4 linked regions of the Homo sapiens genome follow. The protein of the gene in region 3 purifies or fractionates together with the protein of the main gene of each other region. This does not show direct contact. Each region holds a gene or a part of one and is shown on either strand. Other genes may lie near its edges.

Region 1 (4,142 bases), on a different chromosome or scaffold from region 3:
TACAGTTTTTCTCTGTAGTTAACAAGCCTCCCCACCATTTTCCCTGAAATAGCCAAACTCTCAGCCTCATCTAGGCCACAGGATGTGTGAGACACAAGCCTCCTTACACAAGCCAAAGATTGTAAAGGCATCCTTGACTCCCACACAATCGGTAATAGGGCCTATTGCTTCCATTGGCCAAATGTATCTTGACACAAACCAGTCTTGTCCTTTCTGCAGATCTCCATAGCCACTTGGACTACTGTGGCCGCTCCCGATTTCCTGTTCTTTCCTCTCTCCACTTCCTTCTGCATCCAGCTGTCAATACTGTCATCTGAAAATGCAGATCACATGGCTCTGCCCTGCTTCCATGACTACTTAGAATACAGCTCATCTCCAGTATGGTCTGCGGGGTCTCAGTTCATACCACTCTCTGTGGTGTACTTTGCTCCAGCCTCACTGGAAGAAAATGTTTGCTTGCTATAAACACTTGAGAGGTGCTCTGTGTTTCTCCCTTTGGGTAAAGCTTTCTAGGCTGGTCCTAATCTGGGAGCCTCTAAAACTCTGAGATGTGGAGCGAGACAGGAACTGGGCAGGGGCCACCCTTTTCTCTTTGACCATCCCCAACTGCTTTTTTTCTTGCTTTACTTTACTCACTTGTCTTCCACCTCAGCCTGCAGTGAGTGGCTTTTGTCATCAGGCATTAATAACGCAAAGTGCCTCAGAGCAGAAGAGTTAACTATTTGTTTACTTAGCTAAAAACATCTGGACTTTTCTCCATAGCCAGGCTCCTGCTTGCTGAGCCGGCTTGTTCTCACCTCGAGGGGCATGGGCCTCCACCCTGCCGTTTGGGGTGAGGGGATCCTTGGCCAGGGTGGTTTCCCCGCCGTCATAGGAGGGAAGTCAGTGGGAGGCTCAGAAGGCCTTGGCTATACAACCAGTGCCATGCGGCGCAGTCAGGGTCCCATGGACGACTTCCATCAGCTCACCCGCCTCCATCCCCAAGCAGAGTGTAGGCAAGGGCTGTGACTGCCTCAGGTAATTGGGTGATTTTGCTCCAGCAAGAGGAGAGGAAGCATGTGAGTGCCACACTGAACCTTTCAGAAACAGCCGTGGGGTCGGGGGTGCTTGGGCCAGGCCAGGATACTTGGTGTTAAGCCTGCTCTCTCTTCAGTGCCCCGACTCGGCTTGCAAGCAGGACCTGCTGGCCTACCTGCAACGCATCGCCCTCTACTGCCACCAGCTGAACATCTGCAGCAAGGTCAAGGCCGAGGTGCAGAATCTCGGCGGGGAGCTTGTTGTCTCTGGGGTAAGCATTAGCTGAACAAAAAGAGGGCCAGTGGGAACGTGCTGACCCTTGTCAGAAATGAAAGTCACCTCCTATCCGCATAAACACCTGCCCTGGGAAAGTGTGCTGTGCAGAAACTCCAAGTCCTGTCCCAGTCTCTGGAGACCAAGGTCTGTCCATCATCTGTTCCCTGTAGAACTGTGACACCTGCGGGGCACTGCAAGGGCTGAAAGGCTGGCCTCCTCCCCTTTGCTGGCCACTCACTGGGTAGGAATTTTTAAAAATCTTCCTTGGGACCGGGCGTGGTGGCAGGTACCTGTAAGTCCCAGCTACTTGGGAGGCTGAGACACAATAATTACTTGAGCCTGGGAGATGGAGGTTGCAGTGAGCCGAGATGGCACCACTGCACTCCCGTCTGGGCAACAGAACAAGACTGTCTCAAAACAAAACGAAACAACAAAACAAAACAAAACTTCCTTTTCTTCCCCCAGAGAGGAATTAAGAGTAGACATAGATAGGGTGTTTTCTCAAAAGCCCTTCACTCCTCAGAGTGCTTGGGTAGCGTCTCTTTCTTTTTACCACATCACAGTTCTGAGGCCTTTCTCACCTAGGGCAGGGGAAAGAAGAGGTTTGCTGAGTGGATTGGGGTCCACCGAGCCTCCATGGCTTCTCTTAATCCCACTGAATTTCCTTTAAAAGAAACACTTCTTATATTGAACATATTGAGACCATTTGCTCATCTGCTTTGCCATAAACATCCCTGTCTCGATTCCTGCTTCTCCTCCCCCACGTGCTTACAGCTCTGGGATCACTTACAGTGACTTCCAGTTGGTTTGAGTGAATAAACACTTGCTGAGGGGTGGGGGTGAGCAAGGCGAGGTTGCCTCATGTCTTCTCCAAAGGGTCTGAGGGCAGGCGCTTCCAGGCTATTTAGATAAGAGCAGCCGTTGAGGGTGTTCTTCAGGAACAGGCTGCTGCCCAATCCTCTGCGACCTGCCCAGGCCCTGGTCTTGCAGAGGAGTAGGGGGCTCCCCTTCAAGCACAGCCCACCTGTGTCCACGAGGCTGGAGGTCAGGCCGGTGCTTCTTACCACCCCTGTCTGCCTCGTAGGTGGACAGCGCCATGTCCCTGATCCAGGCAGCCAAGAACTTGATGAATGCTGTGGTGCAGACAGTGAAGGCATCCTACGTCGCCTCTACCAAATACCAAAAGTCACAGGGTATGGCTTCCCTCAACCTTCCTGCTGTGTCATGGAAGATGAAGGCACCAGAGAAAAAGCCATTGGTGAAGAGAGAGAAACAGGATGAGACACAGACCAAGATTAAACGGGCATCTCAGAAGAAGCACGTGAACCCGGTGCAGGCCCTCAGCGAGTTCAAAGCTATGGACAGCATCTAAGTCTGCCCAGGCCGGCCGCCCCCACCCCTCGGGGCTCCTGAATATCAGTCACTGTTCGTCACTCAAATGAATTTGCTAAATACAACACTGATACTAGATTCCACAGGGAAATGGGCAGACTGAACCAGTCCAGGTGGTGAATTTTCCAAGAACATAGTTTAAGTTGATTAAAAATGCTTTTAGAATGCAGGAGCCTACTTCTAGCTGTATTTTTTGTATGCTTAAATAAAAATAAAAATTCATAACCAAAGAGAATCCCACATTAGCTTGTTAGTAATGCTCTGACCAAGCCGAGATGCCCATTCTCTTAGTGATGGCGGCGTTAGGGTTTGAGAGAAGGGAATTTGGCTCAACTTCAGTTGAGAGGGTGCAGTCCAGACAGCTTGACTGCTTTTAAATGACCAAAGATGACCTGTGGTAAGCAACCTGGGCATCTTAGGAAGCAGTCCCTGGAGAAGGCATGTTCCCAGAAAGGTCTCTGGAGGGACAAACTCACTCAGTAAAACATAATGTATCATGAAGAAAACTGATTCTCTATGACATGAAATGAAAATTTTAATGCATTGTTATAATTACTAATGTACGCTGCTGCAGGACATTAATAAAGTTGCTTTTTTAGGCTACAGTGTCTCGATGCCATAATCAGAACACACTTTTTTTCCTCTTTCTCCCAGCTTCAAATGCAAATTCATCATTGGGCTCACTTCTAATAACTGCAGTGTTTCCCGCCTTGGGCTTGCAGCAGAAAAACCTGACAACATAGTGTTTGCTAAGGCAGTAATTTAGACTTTACCTTATTTGTGATTACTGTAGTGATTGATTGATTGATTACTATTAACTACAAGGTATAATTTACTATCACCTTATTTAAATTTTATGAATTAATTTGAATGTTTTTTACACTAACTAACTTTTCCCAATAAAGTCCACTATGAAACCACGACATCCAAGAGCCCAAAGTCGTCTTCTCTGCCTTCAAGTCATAGATTTGCCCGCAGTATCTGTGGTGCTCTGGGCCCTCCCGGTGTCCGTCTCTTCCAGGATGGGGATGCCCGGGAGGGAAACTGTCTGTGGCTCTAGGCTGCACGGCTCGTGCCAACCCATCAGGGAGGGCCATGCCCGTTGTCCTATTGAGTGCCCCACCCTGCACCCCCACCTTGGGAATTCACATGTCCATTCCTTGAGGTTCATGTCAACCTCGGAGGCATCCCTGTCTTCATTATAGCTGACCCCTCTCCTGCGTCCTTCTGTCAGCATATCCCTTCTGCATCCTTCCCGTCACACATACATACCAAGCTATGATGATTGATTGATAGTGGCCTTCGAGATGAAAACCATCCTTAACCCCATGATCCTTCCCAGCTGGCATCCCCACCCTAAGCAAGGTTCCCTAAAGAGAAGCTTGTTGACATTTTCTCCCCTTCCTCACTTACAGTCAGCTGTCACCTTGCTCCCTCCACCTCCCCTCGTCAAGGTG
Region 2 (6,845 bases), on a different chromosome or scaffold from region 3:
TGTTGTTTCCATTCTCTCTGGAGAATGGCAGTATATTAGTGGTTAAGTCCATGGACTTTGTAGTTAGTCAGACCAGGGTTAATCCTGGCCTCAACCATTTACAGGCAGTGAGATTTTCACCAAACCTCAGCTTCTCTGAGGGTCAAATTCCTTAAAAAACAAAACAAACAAAAAAACCAGTGGTGGGAAATTAATAGTTTATGCAAAATGCTTAGAATACACTAAAAACAAGGTGTGGGGAGGTAGGGGGGAATGAGGGCCTTGGCAGTTACTAACAGGGTACCAAAATAGAAGGAGATAAATTATACAAAGCTAATCATTTTGTTATTCCAATTGATAGTGATCTATGCTTAATTTATTTGCATCCATCCTATCTCATTCATCCCTGGAGAGCAGCTACTTCATAAACCTAAGGCTGGATTGTAATTACTTAGTGCTTTTCTTTTTGTTAATATCACCAATAGTCTCAATTTTACCCTAGCTCAGAGAACATGTTGGAGCTTCTCTGACTGTCCATGCTGGAACCCTGAGAAAGGTACTAGAACTCCAACCACCTAAAAGAGAACCGCCCCCCCGCCCCGCAATCTGGAACACAGACCACTACCTTACTCACATAACAAAGAAACCAACCGTACATAGGAGGCAAACAAGGAAAGAAATATCTGAACAGCTCATACTTACCTATCATCATTTTTTACCCCAAAACCAAGACAATGAGCAAAACAAAAAATTTAAAAAATAAAAGATTTACTTATCTGCATCCCTTATAATTCCTGAAAGAACCAGTGGAGGTGAGGTAAAAGACAAATCTTCCATCTTATCACCCCAAAGGCTCTGTACTACACACCAGTCAAAACAACCCTTAGTTCGTGGAAATAGTCCTGGACACTAGGTTAACTAGGATGCTCACTTCAGCTACACAAAGCCCACTATTTAAAGCTAGACCCAAATCACCACCACTCAGTCATCCAGAACCTATTTTCAAACTGCCTTTGTACTCCTCCTTCAGATTCCCTCATCCCTCCCCCTAAAGGTTGAGTGGGAAACAGACACTCTGGAAGCAACATGACCAACACTCTAAAGATCCAAGAAACCTCCCCAGGCTGGAGTCAAGGCAGAGAGAACATTTGAAAGAAAATTTGGAAAATATTAAACAAGAACTACAGTTCAACAGCCTATACACATTGTATTTTTTCTTTCTTTTTAACTGTACTTGTTATAATTATGAGATTCAGACATCAAAAATTTCCTGCAGCCTTTGCCTAGGTTGTATTTGAAGGAGGAACAAAGTTCTGTTTCCTCCTGAAGCCACAACTTCACAAGGATGAAATCGTCTTTCAAGAAATACCCTCATTCTAGAAAAGAAATTCAAGGAAGTCTAGTCTTAAAAAAATTTGTGGCAGGGGGGTGAGGGGAGAACGAAATCAGATTATTAAAGATCCATACCAGTTTAAAGCTAATGAGCAGCTTACACACTAAAGCCCATCTTGTTACAATTAGGACAGCATCTATAATTTTCAGGCGGATTCACATTTTCAAAAAGAGAAGAGAATACCCTAGTTTTTCAGCTACTGATGAGTTGGCTATATAATTATCTAGAATCCGTACTTTTGCAAGAATGTATTTGCAAAAACAAAACAAATCTTAAGATTAAATATAAGATATGAAAGCACAGTCATGGGCCTTCAGCTCTAAGAGATTTCAGATTTCATGGTAAATTAACTAAACAATAAATTCAACTCCAAAAAACAACTTTCAGGTTGGTTTAAAAATAAAAATCTCCCTTGTTTTCTGAAATGTATTTTAAACACTAAACTTTGTATAAATGGTTTTTCTAAACCTAATTTTATTCCACCCTTGGCCCTTTCAGAGTGCAAAAAGCTGAAAATATTTTCAGGTATGTTGCCACTTTACTCAGGTGAAATAAAAAGCATGATTAGAATTTCCTTATCCCTTTAAACACATAAACCAAACGTTATCGTATTTGCAGATTTAACAAACACCTCCACAAATCTTTGCTATCAAAGGTAGTTTAGAAGGAAGAAGGAGATGGCAATTCAGTTAACATGGTTCCATTTGTTTTCTTTTATAAGCCAAAGAAGGGAGACTACATCTAGCAGGAGAATGAGGCTCCCACCCACCGCACCTGGAAAAGTAAGAGGGATCCACCCAGGAACAGCAGGGCTGAAACCGATACGGGCCGTTCAAACTCTCTGGGGGAAAAACAATACCATTTACACTGCAAAGCTCCCTGCAACTTTCCACTTCCACAAATCCAATGATAAAAGAAAAAAAAAGTTTTAAACATATGAAGAACCATCGGTATAACTGGGTTCCGACACGGACAAATTTCTTTCCCAACCCACATGCAACATGCCAAAAAACCAACTTTTGATTTGGGCTCTGAAAACAGAAATATGTTAGCTTAATCCAGAAAAATAAATAAATAAAATCAAAGAACACACCAAAATGTAAATTTTCAAACCTGCTCTTACCCCTCTGGATCTATTCAGCTTCCTGTATTAAAGAGACCTAGAAGTTTGTTTCTAGGTCTTGTATATTTTACCTTTTTAAATATAATAAAATACCAAAATCTCCCCCGCCAAAGTACTGAAAGTAGAAAAGAAAAATAATTGCTTAAAAGTTACTCATCAGCATAACAGACTCTCCCGTTTTTTAATTCCCTCCGGTTACCGTAAGACAAAAATTCGACTTGCTTATCCTCCTTTTCCCGTCAGTACATACATTTTCTTCAAAAGCCACACACCTCAAATGTGGAGTTCTAAAAATCAGTCCTTTAAGAAAGAAACCCAAGGCTTCGCCAAGGTGCTGAGAAAGACAAATCCAGCAGGGCAGTTGATTTTTCGCCACCTCTTCCTCCTTTCGGGATCTTTCCTGCTCTTCTTTCTCTCTCTCTCCCTCTCTCTTTTTTTTCCCCCTCAGATCCAACACCTAAAATGGAAGTTGCACCCAGCCAAAGGCAAGGGAGCCTGGGTGGTGACAAACTGATCTGGCAGCCCTACCCCCTTCGCTTTCCTAAGTGATGTCAGCCCCTGTGAGCTTCCAATAGGAACCAGGCATAAATCAGGGAGCTGACCTTATCCAATAGGAAACTTTATTATAGAAAATTAAAAAAAAGAGAGGAGAGAAAGACAGGGGGAAGTTTATACATATATATATTTATATTTATATATTTATATTTAAAGTGGAGAGACTGTACAATCTCTGAGGAATTACTGCAGAGCTGAGGGGGGCGGAAGAGGCAAGGGAGACAAGGAACAAGGGCTTTTTAGAATGGTACGCCTAAGTCTCAGTTCTCTTTGATGATGAGTTCTTGCTCCCTCTTCTGTACTATCCCAGTGGGGAAATAGAAAAGAGCTGATTTTACTTGCCTGCTGCTGTTTGGTTTGTTGCTTCCTACCCCAAAGCATTTCCCTAAAGGAAGACGGGAAAGAAAGGAGAGAGAAATCCTAAAAACAGGACTACTATATGTTGACTGGGATGGTAGGGGATATCTGAGGTAAACTCAGTTTCACTGTTTTGGATTAATTGCATTAGAGCTATTTTTTTTTTTTTTTTTTGAGATGGAGTTTCGAGCCCAGGCTGGAGTACAATGGTGCGATCTCAGCTCACCGCAACATCCGCCTCCCAGGTTCAAGCGATTCTCCTGCCTCAGCCTCCCGAGTAGCTGGGATTACAGGCATGTGCCACCATGCCCAGCTAATTTTGTATTTTTAGTAGAGACGGGGTTTCTCTATGTTGGTCAGGCTGGTCTCGAACTCCTGACCTCAGGTGATCCACCCGCCTCGGCCTCCCAAAGTGCTGGGATTACAGGCGTGAGCCACCACGCCCCATCTAGAGCTATTTTTTTTTTTAATGCCTAGACTTGTTAACAGTTTTAATCTCCATACTTTGAATTAGAAGGAAGCAGAATCCACTGGGCTGTTAAAGAAAATCACTGTCTTCCCAATTTGTCCCCAAATCAAAATAATGTGGGTTTGTTGGAAAGAGGAAATGAAATCCAATAAACAAGCAATATATTTAGAGGGAATAACAGCATAGGTAAAGAAAGTAAATCTCATGTCAAGAACATTTTATGCCGGGCGCGGTGGCTCACGCCTGTAATCCCAGCACTTTGGGAGGCCAAGGTGGGCGGATCACCTGAGGTCAGGAGTTCGAGACCAGCCTGATCAACATGGAGAAACCCTGTCTCTACTAAAAATACAAAATTAGCTGGGCGTGGTGGTGCATGCCTGTAATCCCAGCTACTCGGAAAGCTGAGGCAGGAGAATTGCTTGAACCGGGGAGGCAGAGGTTGCGGTGAGCTGAGATTGTGCCATTGCACTACAGCCTGGGCAACAAGAGCGAAACTCCTGTCTCAAAAAAAAAAAAAAGAACATTTTATTTCTTTGTGAACTTCAAGCTTAAGATGATCTAGCTTATACATTCTCTTTTTACATTTGACCTAAATAAAGGATTATTGGGGTATTATTTTTCTGAGTTAGGACATATTTTTAAACTGTTAGACCATGATGGACAGAGGCTGGATTTTTTTTTTAACATGCTTGACAAAGATTAGCATTTTATGGTTATTCCCTGATTACTAAAACAAAGACAATGATGAATCAAAGATTTCCTTCTTCTTTCTTACTAATCTAAAACTTACCCTATAGACTGCTGCCAAATGAGTCTTCATCAAGTTATCAAAATCTAGAATAGAAATACGAAACCTTGGCTGGGCACAGTGGCTCACACCTGTAATCCCAGAGCTTTGGGAGGCCGAGGTGGGTGGATCACCTGAGGTCAAAAGTTCGAGACCAGCCTGACCCAACATGGCGAAACCCCGTCTCTACGAAAAATACAAAAATTAGCCGAGTATGGTGGTGGGTGCCTGTAATCCCAACTACTCGGGAGGCTGAGGCAGGAGAATCGCTTGAACCCAGGAAGTGGAGGTTGCAGTGAGCCGAGATCATGCCATTGCACTCTAGTGTAGGTGACAAAGCAAAACTCCGTCTCAAAAAAAAAAAAGAAAGAAATATGAAACTTTAAGAGTATAGGTTTTCACAAACTGCCTAGCTTCAAACTCCACCTCTGTAAGTAAGTACACTTACTCAAATATATGTACTATTATGTGACCTTGACCCAAATTAAATAATCTGAACCTCAGTTTCCTTAACTATAAAATGGAGATAACTATATCTCTCTCACAAGACTGTTGTGGGAATTAAAATACACAAAAAGTTCTTTGGGCCAGGCACCGTAGTTTAAGCCTGTAATCCTGGCACTTTAGGAGGCCGAGGCAGGCGGATCACCTGAGCTCCGGAGTTCCAGACCAGCCTAGCCAACAGGGCAAAATCCCGTCTCTACTAAAAATACAAAAATTAGCCAAGCGTGGTGGCGCACACCTGTAGTCCCAGCTACCCAGGATGCTGAGGTGGGAAAATCGCTTGAACCCGGGAGGCAGTGAGCTGAGCTCGTGTCACTGCACTACAGCCTGGGCAACAGAGCGAGACTCCGGTTCAAAACAAAAGTTCTTAATGTATGGCATGTAGTATAAACTCACTAAGAATGCATTATCATTATTTTTATTATTCAGTAACTACCCTGCCCAAAAACTTGCAGTGGTGAGCCACTGCCCAATAATAGCAACCAATGATGAAGTGTCTACCATGTAAGAGGTATTTTGAGCTCAGTACTTCAAACTTCTAAAACATGACCACAGAAATAGTACTACAACCATTCTACAGATGAGGAAATCAAGGTCCAATAAGGTGAAGAAATTTGCCTGATCTCATCTGGCTAAGTGAACCCTCACCAGTCTCACTCCACAGCCCATGCTCTTTCTATTACGTTACACTATGGTCAAGATAAAGGTCAAGAGAAATCCTAGAAACAGGACTACTGTATGTTGACTGGGATGGTAGGGGACTATCATCTGCTTTGAAGGCACCACATTTATTCATTCAGTACATTAAAGTAACACATTATCAACCATAATCTGACCTTTCTTTACCTAGATAAACTAGAATTCAACAACTCAGCATGAATGTGCTTTTAATCATGCTGATGTAGTCATTATCCACTCCCTTATATATATGGTCTATAGTCTCATAGACCTATATTTGGTCTATAGTGGCCAAAAAGGACTTTCCTCAGAAGTGTTGAAAAACCAAACATGCATTACAGCACTTGTTTGATGGGCTTTAAATAAACTACAGCTGAAAATGAATACATTATAACAAAGATATGAACAGCCTTTAAGCCTCATTACCTAAAAATCTTCTCCTTTTATCACATTTTCTACCTCTATTCCCCATCAATTCCTAGTCCTCCATAGCAAGTTCAAAAGCCAAAGATAATCACCAAAGGAAAACAACCAGCCCAAAAATGTTTGTTGATTCATTGATTCCGAGATCAAAGCCACATACTAGAATGTTACATGATTTTCTACAGACAGATTGGTCTTGTTTGTTGAAGACATCACTACTCACAACTTGCAAGTATTTTGTCTTCCTTTTTCTTTTGTTTTCATTTGTGTGTATGTATACTTCTGTCTCCCCCATCAGAAGATAAGCTCCATGGGCTGGGCGCAGTGGCTCAACGCCTGTAATCCCAGCACTTTGGGAGGCCAAGGCAGGCAGATCACGAGTTCAGAAGTTCAAGACCAGCCTGGTCAACATGGTGAAACCCCGTCTCTACTAAAGATACAAAAAATTAGCCGGGCTTGGTGGCACACCACCTGTAATCCCAGCTACTCGGGAGCCTGAGGCAGGAGAATCGCTTGAACCCAGGAGGCAGAGGTTGCAGTGGGCTGAGATTGTGCCATTGCACTCCAGCCTGGGTGA
Region 3 (7,465 bases):
AACAATTCAAGGCACAGAGTCCTTTGAATATTCAATTATATTTAGCTTGTAAAAAAACAAGGGTGCTCCGTATCTGCACTAATAACCTACATATTCTCTTTTCTAAAACTATCGGCTGCTTAGTCTGGAATTTAAAAAAAAAAGAAAAAAAAAACCTAGACTGTTAATAGCAGCTGACTGCAGGACAGCCACTTTCACCTTGCAGATAGAGCTTTGTTGTTCGGGCGTGTAAAGCAGACCATTAGCACAAAGTCATTTCTAATCTCAGTTGTACAATCCACATGGTGCACTTAACCCTAAAACTCATGTTGCGTAAACTGCTCTGCTTCCACTCCTAATGACCTTTCAAATCATTCAATGTTACTGCTTGACTTGTACTCATGAATTAGAGGACTGCCAAATAACTTGATGAGAAAGTTATAATTTCTCCTTTCCTGAAGGTTTAAAAAAGTCAACATTGGTATAGAAGAAACTGAGAAAGAACATACAATGGAAAAGCACATTATTTAATGCTTATAAACGATATTTTTAGAAACACTTAAGAAAAAACTGACAGAAAATTCACACCTGACTTCAAGGCAGATGACTAAAACAGAAAATGAGAGTGCTCCACTTGTAACACACATAGATTTCCCACAGTATTCATGACCAACAAATGTCTCTTCGTGTCCTAACTTCGCTGCACAGTATTCAATTAAAACTCACTTTTAGATGAAAAAGTTTGTGAAAATAACCATCTGCTGCTGGATTCACACTGAGGATTTACTGTCTGTAAATAAGACGACCCAATGCTGTCCAAAAATTAGTGTTTTTAAAGTAAGATTTGTAAAAAATGTATCACATCTCCTTTGTTAAAAAAAAATCCTAATACACAGGAGTCTTTAAGTTTGTCTTGCCTTCCATTTAACTTCAAATACTTTAGAAGCAGGACTTTTTTCCTTCTTCCTCCTTCAGCCTAACCTCTTTAATAAACCCCATTTTTAAAGAAGAAACAATAAATGAAGTGACAGGAGGTCAAAGAATGAGGAGTGTGCGCTGGGAGAATAAAGGGCGGTTTTATAACAGGAGGTACTTTTGTTAGCAAGTGACTGGCAGGTCTCCTCCCCCAAGTTAGAAGGAATTCCATCCACTCTCCAAAACTGCAAAGGCCAAAAATGTCTAGTCTAATAGTTCTGAAATCCCCGAGTCAGGAGAGAGCCGAGTGGCGGATGGCGAGTGGGGGAAGGGAGAAAGACCGGTAGGAGACTAAAGAACAAAAGAAGAAATCCAAGAAAGGGAAAAGGAACGCTGGGACCCTGGCCTGGGAGGCAGGGGTGGGGAGAGACAAAGTGAGAGAGCACGACCCGGGAGGAGAGCGTGGAGCCGGGCAGGGACAGGCGTGCCGCACCATGGCGCACCATGGACAGGGCTCCGCGCGGCGGCGGCCCACGACCGTCTAGGGGTTGCGGGAGAAAGCGCGAGAGACTGCGGAGGCCAGCCCCGTCCAGCCCCTGCCCCCGCCCCAGCAGCACTCACCCCCCGGCGGGCCGGAGCGCGCCAGGCCCTGACCCGTGAAGACCACGGAGCGGGGTAATCCACACCACCTGTCTCCACCCCCGGAGCAGGCACTTCCGAGCTGCGTCCGCACTTTTCGGGGCTGCCAGCTGGCAGTAGAGCACCTCTCCCCTTGCCCCGAGGGCGACAGGCAGGGGGACCCTCCGTGGATTTTCCTGCCCCGCGGCGAGGGTGGGCACGCCCCTTTCCCGCAACCTTCGAGGGACCCCACGGCAGGCGGAGACCGACTTGGGACCAGGGCACTGCACCCGCCCAGCTAGAGGGTCCCGGCCGAGGCTGTGTGAAGTGGCCTCCAGGCCTGGGCTGGCTGGTCGGGAGGAGCCTGGGGGCATCCTCGGGTTGGAGGCGGCGGAAAGTTGGGCTGCCCCCGGGCTGGGAACCCGCAGCGTGCAGTGGCGAGGGAACCTGCGCCCGGACTGGAGCAGGTGCTTCCTGCCGCGGAGGAGCCTCTTAGTAGAGATTAAATGAAAAGGCTCGCTGGCTCTCTCCCGAGGGTATGAAAAGTACGGAAGGCTCCAGGCAAAGGCGCCCCCGGGGCGCATATAGGGCACAGGCAGCCGGACAGAGAAAGGAGCAGCCGCGTAACGGAACTTCTCGCCCGGGGGAGATACTAGGCGTGAGAGGCCAGACTCGTTCTACAGGCAGGCGCTGACCGGCAGAGACTCCTCCGGGCAAGAGGGCCAGATTTTCTTTCCAGGTGGGACGAACACAGAATATTGTGAGGGCAAGAGAAGAAGAAAAGGAGGCAACTCCAGACTGGGATAAAGACAATAGGACAGTAGAGCCCTTGAGCACCGGGAGGCGCACGGGTGCAGGGTGGGGTAAGGTGGAGGCAAGTCCCGTAACTAAGACACCAGAGTGAGAATTCCTACTGTAAACTCGCGACCCATCCCTGCAGAAATAAACAAAAAAATTGGAGCAAAGTACTATGCGAGGGGCGAAAGGCACAGAAAACTGCAAAACCTGGGAGTTATCCTGCCTCACCCTCCTGCTGCCTGGGGACACCCCCCGCGAGCTTGCTCGGCCCCGAAGAAGGAGCAGAGGGGACCCGCAATCCAGCCCCTAGAGCCCCGCCAGGAAAGGCGCGAGAGACCTACTGGCCCCGGCAACCCTGCCCCGGCGCCCGGACGGAGCCCGATGCCTGCGCAGCTACCGGCCGCGCGGCGCGGCGCGGCGCGGCGTGGCACCTCCCTTCCCGGGTGCGCAGCCCGGCCCCGCAGCGGCGCGGGGAACAAAGGGACCCGGCGCCGCCCGCCCCACCCCGCCCGTGGCCCGGCCCGCGGGGACCGCCGCGTACCTGAAGCAGGGCCGCCAGCAGCGGCAGCAGGGTCCGCAGCGCTCCCGCTATCCGGCACATGGAGGCGGAGAGGGGCCGAGCGAAGAGCCGGAGGAGGCGGCGGCGGCGGCGGCGGCGGCGGAGGAGGAGGAGGCAGCGGCAGCACCAACAGCGGCGCGGAGAAACGGCTCCAGGCAGTTTCCACCCCCTTCCCTTCCCCTCCCCTCCCCACCCCCTTCTTCGCTGCTCTCCGCTCCCCGCCAATGGAGAGCGAGCTGATGACAAATAGCGGGCCGCGGAGTCCGCGGGACTCGCACCAGGAGTAATAAAACAGACCCAGAGATCAAGGAGCTGGGGAGGGGGCGGGGGAACAGGGAGGGAGAGCGTGTGAGCGTCTGCGAGTGTGTGGAGGCGGCTGCTGTGGCAGCGCAGGCGGCTCGGCTCCGGCCCGGAGCGCAGCGGAAGCCGCGAGGGATGCAGCGGCGGGGACCTTGGCCGGTGGAGGATGTGGAGGTGGAAGTGGAGCGGATGGCGCTCCCCAAGAGCTCCGCCACGCGAGGTTTCGGGCTCGTGGTTTTGCTTCCTCCGGGTCCCCGCTCCAGGGCCGCTCGGCGCGACGAAGACGCCGGGGACAGCGCCGCGGGGAGGGCGCTCCGGGTCGTGCGTGCTGCACCCACAAAGAGCAGCAGTCCCGCCACTCCGCGCCTCCGCTGCGTGGGGGCCGAGGGGCGCTTCTCGGCTCCTCTTTCCGGTCCCCCGGCGAGTTGGAGACTGTTCTCCGGCCTCGGCCGCAAGGGGGTGAGGCGAGGGGCCGGCGCGGTCTCTCCCGCCGCGGCTCCGTCCCGCGCAGCTGCTGCCGCAGCCGCCCCTGCTGCCCGCGCACCGGCACCCGCCCGCCGGTCCTCGCCCTGCGCCGCTCACTCGCGCGCGCCGCCCTCCGTCGCCGACCGCGCACCCCGCTCGGCCTCCGCTGCGCGACCTGGGCGAGCCGCCGCCGCTCTCCCCGCGCTCGCCCCACGCGCTGCCTGGCTGCGCGGCCCGCTCCCCTCTCCTATTCCTCCCGCCGCCGCCGCCGCCCTCGCCCCCGCCTCCCTCCTCCGCCGAGCCTCCCCGCCCGCGTCGTGGCCAATCGGAGGCCACCAAGCTGCGGCTGTAGCCGGCCGGATCCGCGGCAGCCGCCCGCCCCCGCCCCGCCGAAGCGCCCCGTATTTTGCTGCAGCCCGCGGGGGGTCGCCGGAGGGAAGCCTAGAGTGCGCCGAGCACCGCCCCGGCAGGTGGAGGGGCTGCGGGAAATAAAATAACTTGGGCAGGAACTTGATTGGTAGCAGGTTCATCTTTGGTCCGCGGTAGGGAATCTAATGGAGATGAAGAATGGTGGGGAAGGGGGGGCGGTGTCTCCTTGGGAGCCTAACGTACGCTTCTTTATTTTGTCATTCTTTGGAGATGGGTAATCTTTCCTGGCAGGGGCAGACACAGCAAACTAAGGACGCAGGCCAAGCTCATCCTAGCTATTGTTGTCTGAGGCGCTCGCCGGGAGCCACCTGCGGGCGGGGGAGGGCGGAGGCCGCGGCTCCTCTCTGGAGCTCGCACCTTCAGCTCCCACCCTTGAGGATGTACTGGAACAGCCCAAGTTTTTGTGTTCTTGTTTTGTTTTCTTTTGTCCCCTCTGGGAGTTTGAGAGTGCATGTTTGTTATTTTATTTGAAATCTCCCGTTTTCTATTTCTATTACTACCTGTTAGTGGTACTGTTCACATTTGGGGCCAACAGTTTCAGGGTACTTTTACCCTCTCCTACCACCCCTAACAACAATTTTTAAAAAAGAGAGAAACTAAAAGCCGGAACTTGAGAAAATAGGATTATATAAAAGATAAAATGACTGATACAGAATTCTCACCACGTAAAGGATTTCTGCTGGCTTCCTTTAAGGCATGAACTTCAAGTGCAACACAGTGAGAGACTTTACAAGTTTGAGTCACAAGCATTTGTGGAATGGAGCGGGGGATGGGGAGCAGTTTTTGTTTTTTCTAATTCTGGTGAGGTAATAAATTTTCCGGAACCTTTTTTAAGAAAGGTTTACAAGTAAATAGAAATATCCGTTTTATGTAAGCTTTTCAACACTTGGGAGATCGGTGAACTTCATTGCAGTTAATGAATATTTTCTGCCTTTATTGCTTGCTTTTCTGCTTTGGGTGACTGAAATATTAACTTTATTTGAGTTTCAAGATACCGATCATTTAAGAATCTGATGATGAACCTTTAAAAACCAGCTACTAATTTCTTGACATAACTGATACAGCTTTTAATAATGTACTGTTGCTGGCTAGGCTTTTAAAAATTTAATATTCATAGGGAGGCTTATTCAATTTTAATTAAAACATAATATTGTAAGTTTTTTATGAAACAAAATTTTTCCTGGATTTTCTTTCTTTTCAAAAGAATAAGAAAGGTTATGTTAATTAAATTTAAAAGATGAGATGAAACACTTAATATAGTAATCAGAAGTGCTTGTTCTTACCCTTTCTCTTCTTTTTTTGCTAGATATTATTGTCACACTATTGCTAGTCCGCCTAAAAGTTATCTTTGCAATAGAGTATTTATAAATTATGCTTTCTGGGAGTCATGCAAAATAATAGTAAAAATTCAGTTGAGATATGGGGATATGTTTGTTGTATTCCAGAGTGAGATGTAGAGATCTCATCTCCATGGCTAAGATTTAAGCTTCGACCCTCGTCGTGGGGTTTCGACTGTATCCTCATCACTCCTAGCAGTACCCATTGATGTTTATTGCCATTCTGATTAATTTAAAGGTGGAACAAATTTCAACATGAATAACTCTATTTCTTGTTAGTAGTATTTACTTGAAGCTTTAAACATGTCCTTTATAAATTAAGCACTTATGATTTCAAAATCTCCTTTGGAATGGCTGTCAGTCAAGGAATTCTCTGATTCCAACAGTTTTTGATCCTTTAAGTAAGCACTTGCAGCATGTTTTAAAAGTCCAATTTGCATGCCTCTCACTCTTCAGTGGTTGTGAATTGTTTTAGCATCTTGCCTCACTTTAAGTTGATCACCTGGTCAGCCAAATCTTGCTAATAATAAATAATAGGCCTCTGATTACAAGAAGGAATAGTCTAGTCTAAAATCATGCTGTTGGAGACTTTGTGCATCCATTTGATGTTAATGAAAGTAGATCTGGTGTTGACTATGATATCCAAACACAGCTTTACCTCAGTAATACCATACCTAAGATTAGCTAACGGGGCCATTCACTGTCCTGGGCAACTGATGACCAAACTCGCAGATTTTTAGCCCCTGCTCAAAGCATTACTTGTCTGAAGACTGGTTTTCCATCAGCCTGTAGAACTCCAGGGATGTAGGGGATTGTCAGTGACCCAGAGAAACAACCAGGTGTTATTAGGGGTTGGATGGATGGAGACAAGAAAAAAATATAGAATAATATAAAACATGACTGCATTCACACATCAAAAATCAACCTAATCCTTCATTTCTGACCTATGGAGTGATGCCTGTTGACTATAAGAGGTCTGCAAACCGTTATGGAAACCTGATTAAATGATGTGCTCTGAACACATGGCCCGTTTTTATATATATGTAGAGGTCACGATGATTCATTTCTAAGCATTCATTTTTATATATGTGTAGTTTTTATATGTGTGTAGAGATCATGATTTGTTTCTAAGCATTCATTTCGAAAATCGTAATAATTTTTGTTCTGGTGTGTTTTGTCAGGCAGGAGATGCTAAATGTACAAATTCACCATGTGGGTGTTTGTGTACAAGGGTTCTTGCTTTGGACATAAATGCTCAGCAGTAGTAGTCTAATCTAGAGCCTCCTCTCCCCCACCTCCCCTTCCCTACCCCCTATAGATACACACCGCAAAGACAGGCCCTACACTTGTCTTTGTCTCTGACACCTAGCGCAGTGTCCTTCCCAATGTTGAATGAAGACCCCCTTCTCCACTCTTCCTCCTCTCCCCATCTTCAGAGCAAACTAGGATTGTCCCTCTCCCTTAGAAAGTACCCCTCAAATTACATTTTCTCCATAATTAGCTTTAGTGTACATTAAAGCTGACTTTCCCTGGGTAATATCCCTTTCATAGAGTCATAGAATGTTCTAAATGAAACATTAAAGATGGTCTCTGCAACCCCTTCATTTTACAGATGGGACACCCTGAGACTTAAAAAGGTACACAAGGCCACCAGCTGGAAAGTAGGGAATGCAGAATGGGACCCAGGTCCCCTTACTCCCACTCTTACCTATGCTCTCTATCTTATTCTGGGAAGTTCCTTTAACATTGAAAAATTCAACTATATGGGATGAAAGGGAGATTTTTCTTTTTAAAGAAGAAAATATAATGATGCTAGGGATTAGTCTACTATTTTTCTCAAGTTTTTTGTTCTTCAAAGTATGTGTGAAATTGAGGACATAACTCTTCACTGCTCTCAGTTTTCATATGCTTTTCTTAGTGTGATTATCTTGTGTTATTTATTATGATTTTGGCATTTAAAGATCCATATATTTGATACAACCTGGCTGCTAAACACAAGATAGCCATTCATCTGGTGCTCAGAGAAGTAGTGATCTGATCCAATATTAGAAGAAAAACCTGGTTA
Region 4 (7,032 bases), on a different chromosome or scaffold from region 3:
GCAGGCAGTGGGCTGGGCAGACACTGGGGAGCAGGGCAGGCCACAGACAGCCCCACCTGGGTCCTCTGGGCTACCTCTTGCCCTGCCCAAACCCCCAGCACATGACTGGCCATTCTACCTCTCACCAGGAACCTTGGGGAAGTCACCATCACCTCAGTAATCTCTGTAAAATAGGCCCCACATGTTCTGTCCATCAAGGGAATTTTTTTTTTTTTTTGCACACTTATTATGTGCCTGGCAGTGAATTCAATGCCCTGCTTATATTTTCTCACATAACCTGACAACGACCCTGCAAGGTAAGTACTATCACTGGCTCCACTTTACAGATGGGAAAACTGGGCACAGAGGGGTTATAAGGCAGCCTGACTCAGGGGCCCAAACCCCTACTCTATTCTCCTCCCTTACCCATCAGGTCTGTTTTCAACCCTGAAATCTCAGGAGTCTAATTACACCCTCATCATCCCCAACGGTAGCAATCCTCCCACTATACAGGCAGGCAAACAGAGGCCCAGAGAACCACCAACATCACATCTCACAGCAGATCAGAGGGAAAGTCAGGGCTGTGGGTTCAGAGAGCAGGAGCTGGGTCCTCAGCTGAGACGTCAGGTTCCTCTCTAGCTTCCATCCCCTGGGTGGGTCTGGGAGTCCCACAGGTAGGTGCCCAAGCAGCCACACCCTGGCAACTGTCCTGATGCCCCCAGGGAGAGGGACGCAGAGGTTCCACCCTCTAATTAGTCGAGAAGGAGGAGACAGCTGCATGGCTTTCCCACCTGGATGCTGTACTTTTTGCTACCAACACAGTGCCTGGCCCTGCCAGCCAAAAGGCCCCCTGCTACCCCTACCAGCTGTCAGGGAGGAGACTGGCATGCGAGGGCTGAGCTCCATAGAGCCCCACCAGCCACAGTCTACTCACACTACTCCCAGCACCCACAGCCCACCCCCTGGCATGTTCAGGGCCCTGGAGGCACCTGTGGCCAACAGTTCTAGGGCCTGGCTATTCCTCTCTCCCAGAGGGGCAGGGGAGGCTTGGGCTGGCGGGGCATCCCCATCCCGGACTAAGCCCCAGAGCTGAGTCAGTCACTCATCCCACAGCCTTGGCCTATCTGCAGGTCAGCCGCAGAGGCCTGGTCTCCCTCCAACCCCAACGAGGGGCCCTCAGGCTTGACACCTACACCCCTCTACCCAAAGGGGAATCCCTGGGGGTTCCTGGGGGCTACGGCCCTGGCTCTCCCACAAACGTGAGGCTCCTGCAGCCAAAGGGCTGCGTCCTCCCTGCCATCCATGGGCTCCCTGAGAGCCATAGTGATACATCCTCATCAGACTCTTTTTTTTACTATTTTTTGAGACGGAGTCTCACTCTGTCGCCCAGGCTGGAGTGCAGTGGCGCAATCTCAGCTCACTCCAACCTCTGCCTCCTGGGTTCAAGCAATTCTCCTGCCTCAGCCTCCCAAGTAGCTGGGACTACAGGTGCATGCGCCACCACACCCGGCTAATTTTTGTATTTTTAGTAGAGACGGGGTTTCATCATGTTGGCCAGGCTGGTCTCAAACTCCTGACCTCAGGTGATCTGCCCACCTCAGCCTCCCAAAGTGCTGGGATTACAGGCATGAGCCACCGTACCCAATGTCTTCATCAGATTCTTATGTTCACAGAAGGCAAGGACTATGGCTTTTCCTTCAGACTGGAGGCACCCTAAGGGCAGGGACTATGCCTTCCCTCCCTACTGATGGTTCACAGAAGAGGATTCTGTGACCCTCCCAGATGCAGCACCCTGAAGTAGCTGCACCTCCTCCTTCAGACTGGGTGGGCCCCTAGTTAGCATGAGCTGTGCCTCCTCCCTCAGACCAGAGACCCCCTACAATCTGCCTCCTTTCACTCTGACCTCTCTCCAGGACCCAGGCAGGTTTTCTGCCCCATGCAATAGTCCCCAGGGGTCCTGACCTTGGCTGGGGGGCACCCCCTGGGTGTAAGTGGTGGTTTTCTTGAGCGTGTACTGGCGCCCGCAGGCCTCATCCTCCTCCATGATGCCCTTGCTGCTGACGGAGGGCACGCAGGTGTTGGCGCCCGAGTGGATACCCGAGTCGTAGGTGTATGTCTGCTGCCACTCAGTCACCTTGATAGGCTGCTCCATCAGGTTCATCACCTCCATCGTGGCTACTGGGGGCACAAAGGAGGAAGTCAGGAAGCAGGAAGTCACCTGGCCCAGCCCCCAGCTTCAGCCCGTCACCAAGCCCCGCCTGTCTTCCCACATCATCACCATGGCCCAGGGATTTCAATGAGGATGCAGGCTGGGGATGGGGGGACTGCCCAGAAGGGCACCAGGCCCAGGGAGGGGCTGCCCACGACGAGATACCCTGGGAGCAGTGAGCCCCAGGGGTGCGGCTGTGTGTATGTCCTGGGCTTGCATCTCTGACCTCCCAGGGGGATGAGCCCCAGGGGGCAGGACAGTCAAGGGCCAGCTGCCGCCAGAAGCCCCTGCTCACGCACCTTGCTGCCCTGACCCAACTCTCCCAGGGGCAAGAGAAGGCACTCAGGGCTTCTAGCAGCTTCTGAGGTCCCCTGGGCCCACCCTCAACTACTGGGGCTCCCTGGGAAAGGCTGCAGGGAGGAGGCACCCAAGCCATTGGGCAGGAAACTGGGCGGGGCAGGGAAGCGGTCTGACAGGTTTCTCTGGAGCGCCCCAGGCTCCCTCAGAGACTCCAGGATCTGGCTTTCCTACAGGTTGGGCAGGATCACACATGGCCCTGAGGTCCAGACCCTAAGGCCCCCTCTCTCCCAGCCCTCCCAGTCCCTAGACGCCTCTTTGAGTCCCACAGAGCAATTCAAATCTCAGCTACTCACTACTGGGGCAGTTCCTCTCCCCACAGAACCTCAGTGTCCTCATCTGTAAAGCGGGGTCACGCCACCTCCCTCAGAGGTGGTTGCGAGGACCTGGTGCATAGCAGGTGCTCAGAGGCCACGGCCATTATCATCAGCACTGCCTCTCCTCCAGAAGTGCTTCCTCACCTCCTGGTCTCCTCGAGCCCAGGCTAGGGATCTGGGGTGGGGCAGGCCTGTGGGTGGTCACTGCCGTCAGGAACCCCTCTCTCTCTCTGCAAAGGTTTAGGCGCACCTGAAGGTTAATGAGTAGCAGGGCCGAACTTTGTACCAGGGAGGTGAACTTCCCGCTTGGTCTGTGTTTGGCTCCACTGTCCTGGGAACTGACCTGCAGAGGTCAGAGGCTGCGGGGAGAATGGACGCCGTGATCCCATGAGGGCCTACTACGAGCCAGACCTTTCACAGACACCGTCATGCTCATGGGCGGGTTTCAAAGCCCATGCACTGGTCCCCCGCGTACAGATGCAGAAACTGAGGTTAGAAATGGCAGAGCTGGGACTGGGACCAGGTGTGAGGGCACCAAGGTCTGTAGTCTTTGCACATCCCGGCGCAGCCTCAGTGAGTAAGCAGAACTCAGGCTGGTCCACCCATGAAGCCAGGCAGCACCCGGGTTGTCTCACTGTGATGGGGACCAGGTGAGGGTGGGGTGGCTGGGGCAACCTGGCCCCACCCCAGGAACAAAGATCACCAAGGATAAGTCTTCCCTGTGACTGCCCCAGTGCCGCCCTGGCCCTCCAGGAGGATGACGAATGGTCCTGCAGGTCTCCCAGCCTTTTATGGCAGGCAGCCGTGAGCACACCCGGAACAGGCAGAGGCAGGGGCCAGGCCAGCTCCCAGCTGCCTCCTTCCTCTCCTCCCGCAATCCCTAGTGACTCAGAGTTTCAGGCTGATTAAACAGAAGCAGTCCCGCCACCTCAGACGGCAGACCCCAGACGACAGGCTCGGGCCGCCAGATGTGCACAGCTGCTTCCCAGGCATTCGAAAGTGTAGCTATTTCAGAAGGAGCCCCCCCAACCAGCCCCCTTTCCACACGCACCCCTTCCCCACACCCCTTCCCCAGCAACAGAGGGGAATGGCCACTGGCAGGAAACAGGGGCAATGGTGGGGGGCGGGGGGCGGGGTGCTCGGAGAAGGCAGACATGGGAAAACCCTACTAAAATCCTGAGCTCCTCGTGCTGTGCCGCCTTCCCCAACCATTTCCCTGCCCCAAGGGCAAGTCCCAAGAGAGAGCAGAGGAGAGTTTGGAAGAGAAGCTGCCCCCAGGAGAGAAGGAAGGTGCAAGTGTACAAGTAAACACGGTAGCAATAACCCACTGAATGCCGCTCTGCTGGGCTCAAGGCTGAACGACATCTGGACACTGCTGGACATCTGCAGCTCTGGTCAACAAACACACTGCATCCCAGCCAGAGGGCCCTCCTGCATAGACAGTGCCTAACCCTGGGGCTTCTCAGCTAAGGGAGAGGGAAGCGGGCCTCACTCCAAACAAGGGTCACCCCTTGCCGGCCTCACATCTAAAGGGACCACCACAGTCAAGCTGAGGAACTTCCTCAGCAGGCCCCTCACCACCCCCACCAGCCCAGGTCAACCGCCAGGAGACTGCTGAGGGCTAGACAGCTACCCAGGGAGAGACAGAAGCCACAGGATGCCATGGGGGGGTGGGGGGGTGGACGCCCAGTGGCCTTTATTATTATGTGAATCTCATTCTTCCCTCAAAGCAACCCTGGCAGATGTTTTATAATTTCCAATTTCTTTCTTTCTTTCTTTTTTTTGAGACAGAATCTCTCTCTGTCGCCCAAGTTGGAGTGCAGTGGCATGATCTTGGCTCACTGCAACCTCCACCTCCTGGGTTCCAGTGATTCTCCTGCCTCAACCTCTGAAGTAGCTGGGACTACAGGTGTGCACCACCACGCCTGGCTAATTTTTGTATTTTTAGTAAAGACCGGGTTTCCCCATGTTGGCCAGGCTGGTCTTGAACTCCTGACCTCAGGTGATCCGCCCACCTCAGCCTCCCAAAGTGCTGGGATTATAGGCTTGGGCCACTGTGCCTGGCTTTATTCCCAATTTCTAGGTGAAGAAGCTGTGCCTGCACACTGAGAAAATGGCAGCACTTGTGGTAGGAACAGCATCCAGTCCACTAGACAAGCCTGGGTGGAGCTGAGCCCTCTTGCCAAGGGGAGGAGGGGACCAAGGTGCTTGCAGATGGAAGCAGAGCACTCGGCTGCAAATCAAGTGTCCCAGGTTCGGGTGCGGTGGCTCACACCTGTAATCCCAGCACTTTGGGAGGCCAAGGCGGGCAGATCACGAGGTCAGGAGTTCAAGACCATCCTGGTCAACATGGTGAAATCCTGTCTCTACTAAAAAAGTACAAAAATTAGCCAGGCATGGTGGTGTGCACCTGTAATCCCAGCTACTCGGGAGGCTGGGGCGGGAGAATTGCTTAAACCAGGGAGGTGCATGTTGCAGTGAGCCGAGACTGCGCCACTGCACTTCAGCCTGGCTGACAACAGAGCAAGACCCTGTCTCAAAAAAAAAAAAAAAGAGTCCCAGGTTCTAGTCCCAGCTCTGCCACAAACTTGCTGGGTGTCCTTGTGTCCCTGGATCTCAAAGGAATGTTGATGTCTAAGATTCTAGAAATAAAAAAACAGGATTCCCACAACAGACAGAAGAAGGCTGGGGGTGGGCAACGTCAGAGTTGGGAACCAGTTCAGAGAGAGGACACACTCCAGAACTCCTCCTGAGGAAGGGGTCACGGGAGCTATTCCTGCAACAGGAAGGCTGGAAGTCAGACCTCAGGCAGGACTGTCAACCAGCCCCACCCTTCTCCTTACCTACTGCCCAGGAGAACAAAGGAACTTCTCTCACAAGAAACAAAAGTGCTGGTTTTACAGTTCCCAGGGTGGAGGGGGCCACACCCAGTTCAGTCTTGTCCCTCTCCACCCTGGACCTGGAGTCAGACCTCCTGCAATGCCCCTGGACAGAGCCAGGGTGGAAGCGAGAGAGACAGACGCAGGCCCTGCCCACTCATCCCAGCCAGAGACGGGCAGGGACAGAGACAGGGCGGGTTTCTGAGTTGAATGGGGGGCCTTTGTTTAGAGCGTGCTCTATTGTTAGCAGCACGGGAGGAAGAAGCCAGATCAGAGACTGTAGGGACAGCCCAAGGACAGGAAGAAGGAAGACGGGCCCTGGAGAGGGGGTGCAGAGGACCCTTCCCCATGGGACCCACACCAGGTAAGTGTGAGCAAGTAATAAGGCTAGACTGGGTGCACCCCTACCCTTCTTTCCTGCCTCCTCCTCTGCGCAGCCAACCCAGAGGGCTGGCACCGGGCACCCTAAATCCAAGACTGACCTGGCAGAGTGTGGCCCAGCCCTGACATTAAAAATAGCCCCACCAGAGCTACACCAGGCTCCTTCCCCAGCCGGCACCTGCCAAGGACAGTCAGCAATGGGCACATCTAGGCTGGGTTGCAGGGCACCAAGTGCCAAGACACCTGGAAATAAGGACAGGAGTGGGTTACCCCAGAGGCCGTGCTGGAAGCAGACTCAGAAGCATTGCATTTGGGAACAGAGGAGCAGGGCGGAGCAGGGCAGGGCTGGGTCCCCCAGAGGTTCCTTAGGCTAGAGGCCAGCACCCTGTGCAGACACAGGTCCCCAGGCTCAGACAGCGACAGGGTGAGCACAGGATTCTGAGTGAGGAGAGGGGCTCAATTTCCTTAAGCCTCATTTTCTCATCTGTAAAATGGAGATGATCAAGTGACTTCTTTTGTCACTGTGACTCTGGAAGCCCTCTGTCCACAGGAAAGGCATGCATTCTCATGCTAGAAGAACAAAGAGATGGCAGAGGAGGCGGAAGCCAGCTGGCGCAGTGGCTCGTGCCTATAATCCCAGCATTTTGGAAGGCGGAGGTGGGAGGGTCGTTTGAGCCCAGGAGTTCGAAACCAGCCTGGGCAACATAGTAAGACCCTGTCTCTACAAAAAATAAAAAGAAATTAGCCGGGCATGGTGGCATGCACCTGCAGTCCCAGCTACTCTGGAAGCTGAAGCATCACTTGAGCCCAGGTGATTGAGGCTGCAGTGAGCCAGGATCATGCCACTCCAGCCTAGGCAACAGAGCGAGACCGTGTCTCAAAACAAAAAGGTGAGGGGGCCAGGCGCGGT

The links.
Region 1: the proteins of CDH2 (region 3) and CTNNA1 purify together in Homo sapiens (affinity purification with mass spectrometry; 4 studies listed by BioGRID and IntAct, with this or other methods). This does not show direct contact.
Region 2: the proteins of CDH2 (region 3) and CTNND1 purify together in Homo sapiens (affinity purification with western blotting; 6 studies listed by BioGRID and IntAct, with this or other methods). This does not show direct contact.
Region 4: the proteins of CDH2 (region 3) and JUP purify together in Homo sapiens (co-immunoprecipitation; 4 studies listed by BioGRID and IntAct, with this or other methods). This does not show direct contact.

What each region holds. Positions count from the first base shown.
Region 1 is NC_000005.10:138,931,425-138,935,566, forward strand, and holds the end of CTNNA1 (catenin alpha-1), read left to right. Parts: intron 1-1,153; coding exon 1,154-1,288; intron 1,289-1,463; coding exon of another isoform or gene 1,464-1,534; intron 1,535-2,377; coding exon 2,378-2,665; 3' UTR 2,666-3,610; downstream 3,611-4,142. UniProt on the Homo sapiens protein: Associates with the cytoplasmic domain of a variety of cadherins. The association of catenins to cadherins produces a complex which is linked to the actin filament network, and which seems to be of primary importance for cadherins cell-adhesion properties.
Region 2 is NC_000011.10:57,757,969-57,764,813, reverse strand, and holds the start of CTNND1 (catenin delta-1), read right to left. Parts: upstream 3,013-6,845; 5' UTR 2,695-3,012; intron 1-2,694. UniProt on the Homo sapiens protein: Key regulator of cell-cell adhesion that associates with and regulates the cell adhesion properties of both C-, E- and N-cadherins, being critical for their surface stability.
Region 3 is NC_000018.10:28,174,112-28,181,576, forward strand, and holds the start of CDH2 (cadherin-2 isoform 1 preproprotein), read right to left. Parts: upstream 3,020-7,465; 5' UTR 2,912-3,019; coding exon 2,852-2,911; intron 1-2,851. UniProt on the Homo sapiens protein: Calcium-dependent cell adhesion protein; preferentially mediates homotypic cell-cell adhesion by dimerization with a CDH2 chain from another cell. Cadherins may thus contribute to the sorting of heterogeneous cell types.
Region 4 is NC_000017.11:41,769,706-41,776,737, forward strand, and holds part of JUP (junction plakoglobin), read right to left. Parts: intron 3,222-7,032; exon of another isoform or gene 2,885-3,221; coding exon of another isoform or gene 2,842-2,884; intron 2,552-2,841; exon of another isoform or gene 2,488-2,551; intron 2,158-2,487; coding exon of another isoform or gene 2,150-2,157; coding exon 1,942-2,149; intron 1-1,941. UniProt on the Homo sapiens protein: Common junctional plaque protein. The membrane-associated plaques are architectural elements in an important strategic position to influence the arrangement and function of both the cytoskeleton and the cells within the tissue.